Regions from separate parts of the Homo sapiens genome. Here region 2 is reported to be linked to region 1. Evidence: microRNA targets listed by miRTarBase, many of them from high-throughput screens and not tested one by one. Region 1 holds a microRNA gene; the other region holds the end of a gene's coding sequence.
The links. Region 1 holds the annotated microRNA hsa-miR-8060 (CCAUGAAGCAGUGGGUAGGAGGAC, at 2,466-2,489, shown strand). A microRNA usually pairs through its seed, bases 2 to 8, with sites in the 3' UTR of a target mRNA and lowers its output. Matches are read on the target gene's strand: a 7mer-m8 pairs with bases 2 to 8, a 7mer-A1 pairs with bases 2 to 7 and ends in A, and an 8mer does both.

Region 2: miRTarBase lists TBC1D13 as a target of hsa-miR-8060. Seed matches in the 3' UTR shown: 8mer at 1,752-1,759.

The regions. Positions count from the first base shown.
Region 1 is chr3:96,357,541-96,361,065 of GRCh38, forward strand. MIR8060 (microRNA 8060) reads left to right here and starts at 2,424; the gene lies at 2,424-2,499.
Region 2 is chr9:128,807,325-128,810,324 of GRCh38, reverse strand. TBC1D13 (TBC1 domain family member 13) reads right to left here. Exons shown (of 12, transcript NM_018201.5): 12 at 1-2,511. The coding sequence ends at 2,446. Among named protein-coding and RNA genes, the nearest start is that of ENDOG, 9.7 kb to the left of the region's middle.

The DNA of each region.
Region 1 (3,525 bases):
CCTAAGATTTTTGTCAGAGCTTTTGTTCAGAATGGTATTTTCTAGGTTATATTCCGGTGTTTTTATAATTTTAGGATTTACATTTAAGTCTTTAATCCATCTTAAGTTGATTTTTGTGTAGGGTGTAAGGAAGGGGTCCAGTTTCAATCTTCTGCACATGGCTAGCCAGTTATCCCAGCACATTCATTCAACAGGGAGTCCTTTCGCCATTGCTTGTTTTTGACAGCTTTGTCATAGATCAGATGGTTGTATGTGTGTGGCCTGACTTCTGGGCTCTCTATTATGTTCCATTGGTCTATGTGTGTGTTTTTGTACCAATACCATCCCGTTTTGGTTACTGTAGCCCTCTTGAAGTCAGGTAGCATGATGCCTCTAGCTTTATTCTTTTTGCTTAGGATTGCCTTCACTATTCCAGGTCTTTTTTTGTTCCATACAAATTTTAAAATAGTTTTTTACTAGCTCTGTAAAGAACATTATTGGTAATTTGATAGGAATAGCATTAAATCTATAAATTGCTTTGGGCAGTATGGCCATTTCAACAATATTGATTATTCCAACCCATGAGCATGGAATGTTTTTCCATTTGTTTGTGTCATCTCTGATTTCTTTGAGCAGTGTTTTGTAATTCTCATTGTAGATTTGATTATTTTTGTGGCATTTGTGAATGGAATTGCATTCCAGATTTGGCTTTTGGCTTGACTGTTGTTGGTGTATAGTAATGCTAGTGATTTTTATATGTTGATTTTGTATCCTGAAATTTGATGAAGTTGTTTATCAGTTGAAGAAGCTTTTGGACCAATACTATAGAGTTTCCTAGATATAGAATTCTGTTGTCTGCAAACAGGGATACTTTGACTTCCTCTTATCTTATTTAGATACCCCTTTATTTCTTTCTCTTGCCTAACTGTTGTGTCCAGAACTTCCAATACTATGTTGAATAGGAATGAGGTGGGAGGACATCCTTGTCTTGTGCCCATGTTCAAGCGGAATGCTTCCAGCTTTTGTCCATTTAGTATGATGTTGGATTTGTCAAAGATAGCTCTTATTATTTTGAGGTAGTTTCCCTCAAAACCTAGACTACCTGATCTTCAACAAACCTGATAAAAAACAAGCAATAAGGCAAGAATTCCCTATTCAATAAATGGTGCTGGGAGAACTGGCTAGCCATATGCAGAAGATTGAAACTGGATCCCTTCCTCACACTATAAGCAAAAATCAACTTAAGAAGGATTAAAGACTTAAATGTAAATCCTAAAATTATAAAAACATTGGAAGATAACCTAGGAAATATCATTCTTGACAAAAGCTCCAACAAAAATATTAGGATGATGATGCTAAAAGCAATTGCAATAAAAACAAAGATTGACAGATGGGCCCTAATTAAACTAAAGAGCTTCTGCACATCAAAAGCAACTATCAACAGAATAAACAGAAAACCTACAGAATGAGAGAAATAACTGCAAACTACGCATTTGACAAAGGTCTAATATCCAACATCTGTAAGGAATTTAAAGAAATTTACAAGAAAAAAAGCAAACAACCCCATTAAAAAGTGGGCGAGAGACATGAACAGACATTTTCCAAAGACACAAATGCAGCCAACCAAGCCTGTGAAAAAGTTCTCAATATCACTGATCATTAGAGAAATGCAAATAAAAACTGTGAGATACCATCCCACACTAGTCAAAATGGCTATTACCCAAAAGTCAAAAAATAACAGATGCTGGCAAGATTGTGGAGAAAAGGGAATGCTCATACATTTTTGGAAGGAGTGCAAATTAGTTCAGTCATTGTGGAAAGCAGTAAGGCAATTCGTCAAAGAGCCAAAAAAGGGACTAAGAATTGACAGCAAACTTGTTACTGTATATATGCCCAAAGTAATATAAATTGTTCTGTATAAAGACACACACATACGTGTATGTTCATTGCAGCACTGTTCAGAATAGCAATGACATGGAATCAACCTAAATGCCTATCAATGGTAGACTGGATAAATAAAATGTTGTACATATATACCATGGAATACTATGTAGCCATAAAAAGAATGAGATCATGTCCTTTGCAGGAACATGGATGGAGCTAGAGGCCATTATCCTGAGCAAATTAATGCAGGAACAGAAAACCAAATATCACATTTCTTATTTACAAGTAGGAGCTAAATAATGAGCATGAACACAAAGAGAGGAACAACAGAGACCTGCCAGAGGGTGGAAGGTGGGAGCAAGGAGAGGAACAGAGAAAATAACTATTGAGTACTAGGCTTCGTACCTGGTAATGAAATAATGTGTACAACAAACCCCTGTGACACAGTTTACCTATAAAACAAACCTGTATGGTACCCCTGAATCTAAAATAAAAGTTTGAAAAAGTAAAATAAAAGTAAAAATAAAAGCATAAGTGCATATAAATCAATATAGCATAGGTTTAAATCCTGTTTTTCCCACTTACTATTCTGGTCAGATATCCCATGAAGCAGTGGGTAGGAGGACAGGAAAAAGCTCATACGGCCACTAGAAATACATGTGTGACTAGGTAACCTCATATTCGAAATTCATAGTTTACCCGTGAGAATTTGATTACTGAAATGGAATAATGATAAATAATACAAAATAAATTAACTATGGAGATGTTACCTTAAAAAAATGTTGGGGCTAGGTGCGCAGATTATATACAATCATTGCTTCTTCCTCAGCTACTGGGCTTGAGGTTGGCAAAGCCAATGGTTGTGAAGGAATGGTGAACGTAAAGTGAGGCAGGGGGAGCAAAGAGAAATGGAACCTTCAAGGAGGAGCCGAAAATTGGGTCAGCCTCTCATTGCCTCCTTGCCTTCATCCCTATGTTGCAGATGAACTTCAGGAGAAGCTTTCCTCACAGAGATAAGCACAGACTTGAACCAGGATCCAAAGAAACTCAAGGAAGGGATGCAACAAAACACGGAGAAATTGAGAGCCTGGCTACTAATGCTGCAGTGTTGCATGCTCTGGCCAAGGACTTAGAAAAGCTGAAGGAGTATAATCAGTGAGAACTGGAAGAACTCTAAGGTGAGCTGCTTTTTCACAACAACCAATAAGCCAGCAGATCAGTGACAATGTGCACAAGCAGTAGAAGCTTCACAGCACCCTGTTCCAACATTCCCAGTATACAAAAATATGGCTGCCCTTTACATGCACATTTCAAATTATGCACACAATTTGTTCTGTGGCTAATACTGTATTGGAGCTATGCAGCAAAGCTTATGCCTAGAACATTTCACTACTAATTTAACTAAGTTGACTTTTTTTTTTTAATCTTTTGGTTTTTGGTCTGCTTTCAGACCACAGCAATCATCAACACAGAAGACTGCTGTTATAAAATGTAGGTGGGTGGGGTTCTCCTCACCACCAAGCAAGCAATAAATTCTGCAGCGGACATTAACTGGGTGTTCTACAATTCAGTTCCAACACTAGCTAGAGATAGGATCAGATCCCTCAGATTGAGAGTTCAGTCCTGATGTATGCCCCCCACTAGAGATCTATTACGAGTCCT
Region 2 (3,000 bases), not on the chromosome of region 1:
GAGTGAGACCCGCTGAATTCATACAGCTCAATCTGTAAGTGTCCAAGATCCAGGGGGCAGGTTCTCAAGCAGGAAGCCTCAGGCACTCTGGCTCTGTGGGGACCTCCCTTGGGCATCTGCTTGAGAATCTGGGGAAGGGACATTATCAGGGCAGGTCCTTTCTGCAGGCGGTGTCCTGCTGGGAGCTCAGCCTAACCAAGGCCTGGTCCCTGTGCTCTTGACCTTCATCTCAAGGTCAAGGAGAGGGCACTTGACCCAACTCTGCCAGCGAGGCAAAGTAATGGTGATTCAAGTAGTGTGGTTCCAGGAGGGAAGGTAGGGGGCAGACAAGAGTGAGTGCACTAAAGAGTCCTGGGCAGTGTCTGCTGGGTCCCAGGCAGTGGCCCAAGCTTATGAAGGGGTTGGAGAAGGGGCTGAACCACCAGCTGACAAGTCCTGGAGAGAGGGTGGCCCAGGTGAGCAGGAAGCATCATGCCTCTGCCTCATCCTGGAGGTCCTGGAGTCAGCCCAGTTCTCTTCCCATCTTTACACTCAATTCCAGTACAGAACTCAGAGCCCGCTCAGCCAGGACCTGCTCGAAAACCAGGCAGTTCCTAGAAGCATGGGGAGAAGAGGCTGACTTTGATCTTGGAAAATGAAGAGGATCTTGTCTCCAACTCCTTTCTCCCTTCCTATACCCATGCCTCATCCCCAGAGCACTTGCCAATGTGCAATACATAGCCAGGAGTCTGAATAAATAGTCAAAGTCTCCCAAATACTGTGCTCTGGGAGAGGAGACAGGCAGGTGCGGAAATCCAGGCGGCATCAAAGGAAAAGCCTGGTAGAAGAGCCACCTGGGGAAGCCTTTCCTGGCCCAAAGCCGGGCTTGGAAGGGCAGCGAGAAGTCCTGCCCACCAGACTCGGAAAGCTTTGGGGGCAGGAGGGCTGCTGGGGCCTGACTCCTGCCAGCCAGTCTGGAGGACGAGGGTCCTCACTATGGCACCCGGCTTCCGGACGCAAACCTTGTACAAGGAGGGAGGTGACTTGGTGAGAACTGGGAGTGGCCAGCTGCCCCTGCTCAGGGTACACCTGCTCCAGCCCTGGGAACAGCTCAGGCAGGGGTCAGAGAAGGCCCTGCACCTCCCTCAGCCCGCAGCGGGTGGAGGGGTACACAGAGGCACAGACATGGCCCTCCTGGAACTGGCAGGACCCAGGGCCTTTAAGCTCAGCTACCCCTGGCCCCAGAGAGGCTTCCTCGGGCCCCACTTGCCCTTTGTGGGACTCACTCAACCCAACCCTGGGTTGGGACCTGGAAGCCGAGGGAATGACAACTCTTCTGAAGCAATGGGTTCCGACCCTGGGCTCAGAATCAAGGTCCTTTTCTTTTCGGACAGGAGGGCCTCTGGGGGAACCTCCAGAAAAACCAGCTCCCCCTCTTCCTTCTCCCTCCCTGGGCAGAAAGCAGGGGCAGGAGGCTCAAAGCTTCATCCTTACTCAGCAGCATTTGGTTTCCAAGATTTCTGTGTAGGGAACGGGTTCAGAACCCTCTAAGTGAGGCACGGAGGACTCCCTCCCAGTTGGGAGGACCTAGGAGCCAGGGCTGGGGGATGGGAACAGGAGGCAAAGGCCAAGCTTGACCTCCAGGGGCCTTGCTGAGCCAGTCTCCTCATCTGTCTCCCAGGTTCAGGGGAGCAGAGGCAAGCGGGGAGAGGAGGTGGCTCAGGATAAGGCACCCCAACAGAGAAGGGCAGGGAGAGTAATGGAGAGAGGAATCATGAAGCAAGACACAGTCCCACTCTGGGAAGGAGGTGGAAGGAGACAGGCAGAGAGGTAGAGACAGAGAAGGAGGGGCTGGGAGACCTGGAGGCCTGAGAGACCCTCACTCCCTAACACACACACACACACACACACACACACACACACACACACACACACACGGAGAAGATGCCTGGGGACTTGGGCCCACATTCACACCGACCGACTACAGACATCTGTGGGTGAGACAGACGGCAGGACTCAGCTTTCAGTGTCGCCTTCCCTGTGGAGCAGCCGAAGTGCCCCGCTCAGAAGCGGTTTCTGGCCCATTGGCCAAGCACCTCCCCTGAGTGGAGCCCAGGAGAAGACCAGAAGCAGGAACTGAGGCTGGGGCGGCAGAGCCGAGGCAGGGAGGGGCCCCTGCCAGCCTCCCAGTGCCAGAAACGGCCCTGGCCCAGGAAGGACAACTTCCCGAGCTCCAGCCCTCCTCAGTATCCTGGGCAAAGAGGGCAGAGTGCAGGGCAGGTGGGGAGCTGGGCGTGGCGGCAGAAGGAGCACGGCACAGTGTGTCCCCAGTGGGCATGGCCTGGGTCTCGGGCCGATCCTGTGGCTTCCCCTCAGGCTGGGTTCCTACAGGTTTCTATGTGTCCCGGGAGCCAGGGCACAGGGTCGGGAGGCTTCTCTCCGGAACATGGGCCTCTTGCCGCCGGGCTACTTTGAGTCTTGGAGCTCCTTGGCTTTCTGCAGGATCTGGCAGACATCTGTGATGGGGTAGTCCTGGGCACAGGAAAAGGCCAACAGTTGCCTCTGAAGCCACTTCACCCCTGCCACACCCACACCCTCCCTGCTGGGACCCGTTGCCATGCTGGATCCTGGGCCTCAGGGGCAGGAGCACAGAACACCAGGCATCCCACACTCCCCAACCCCCAGACCCCTGCATGCAGCTGACGCTACACCATGCAGCACCAACTCAACGATCCAAACACAACCACTCCCAGGCTCTTGCGGCCCTTTCCTCAGGACCAGACCGTGCTGCCTCAGCTCTCCCACTACTGCCACTGAACCCGAGCTCCCTCGTGTGGAGCCAGTAGGACTGGGCCAGTGTCTGAGCATCAGCGCGAAGTCCCAACAGCCCTGTGAGTGGCCACTGTGATTCTGCACTTTTTCCAGATCTGGTCCATGAAGTTAGGGAAAAGCAACTCTAGGCTGGGCTTGGTGGCTCACACCTGTAATCTCAGCACTTTGGGAGGCTGAGGTGGGCGGATC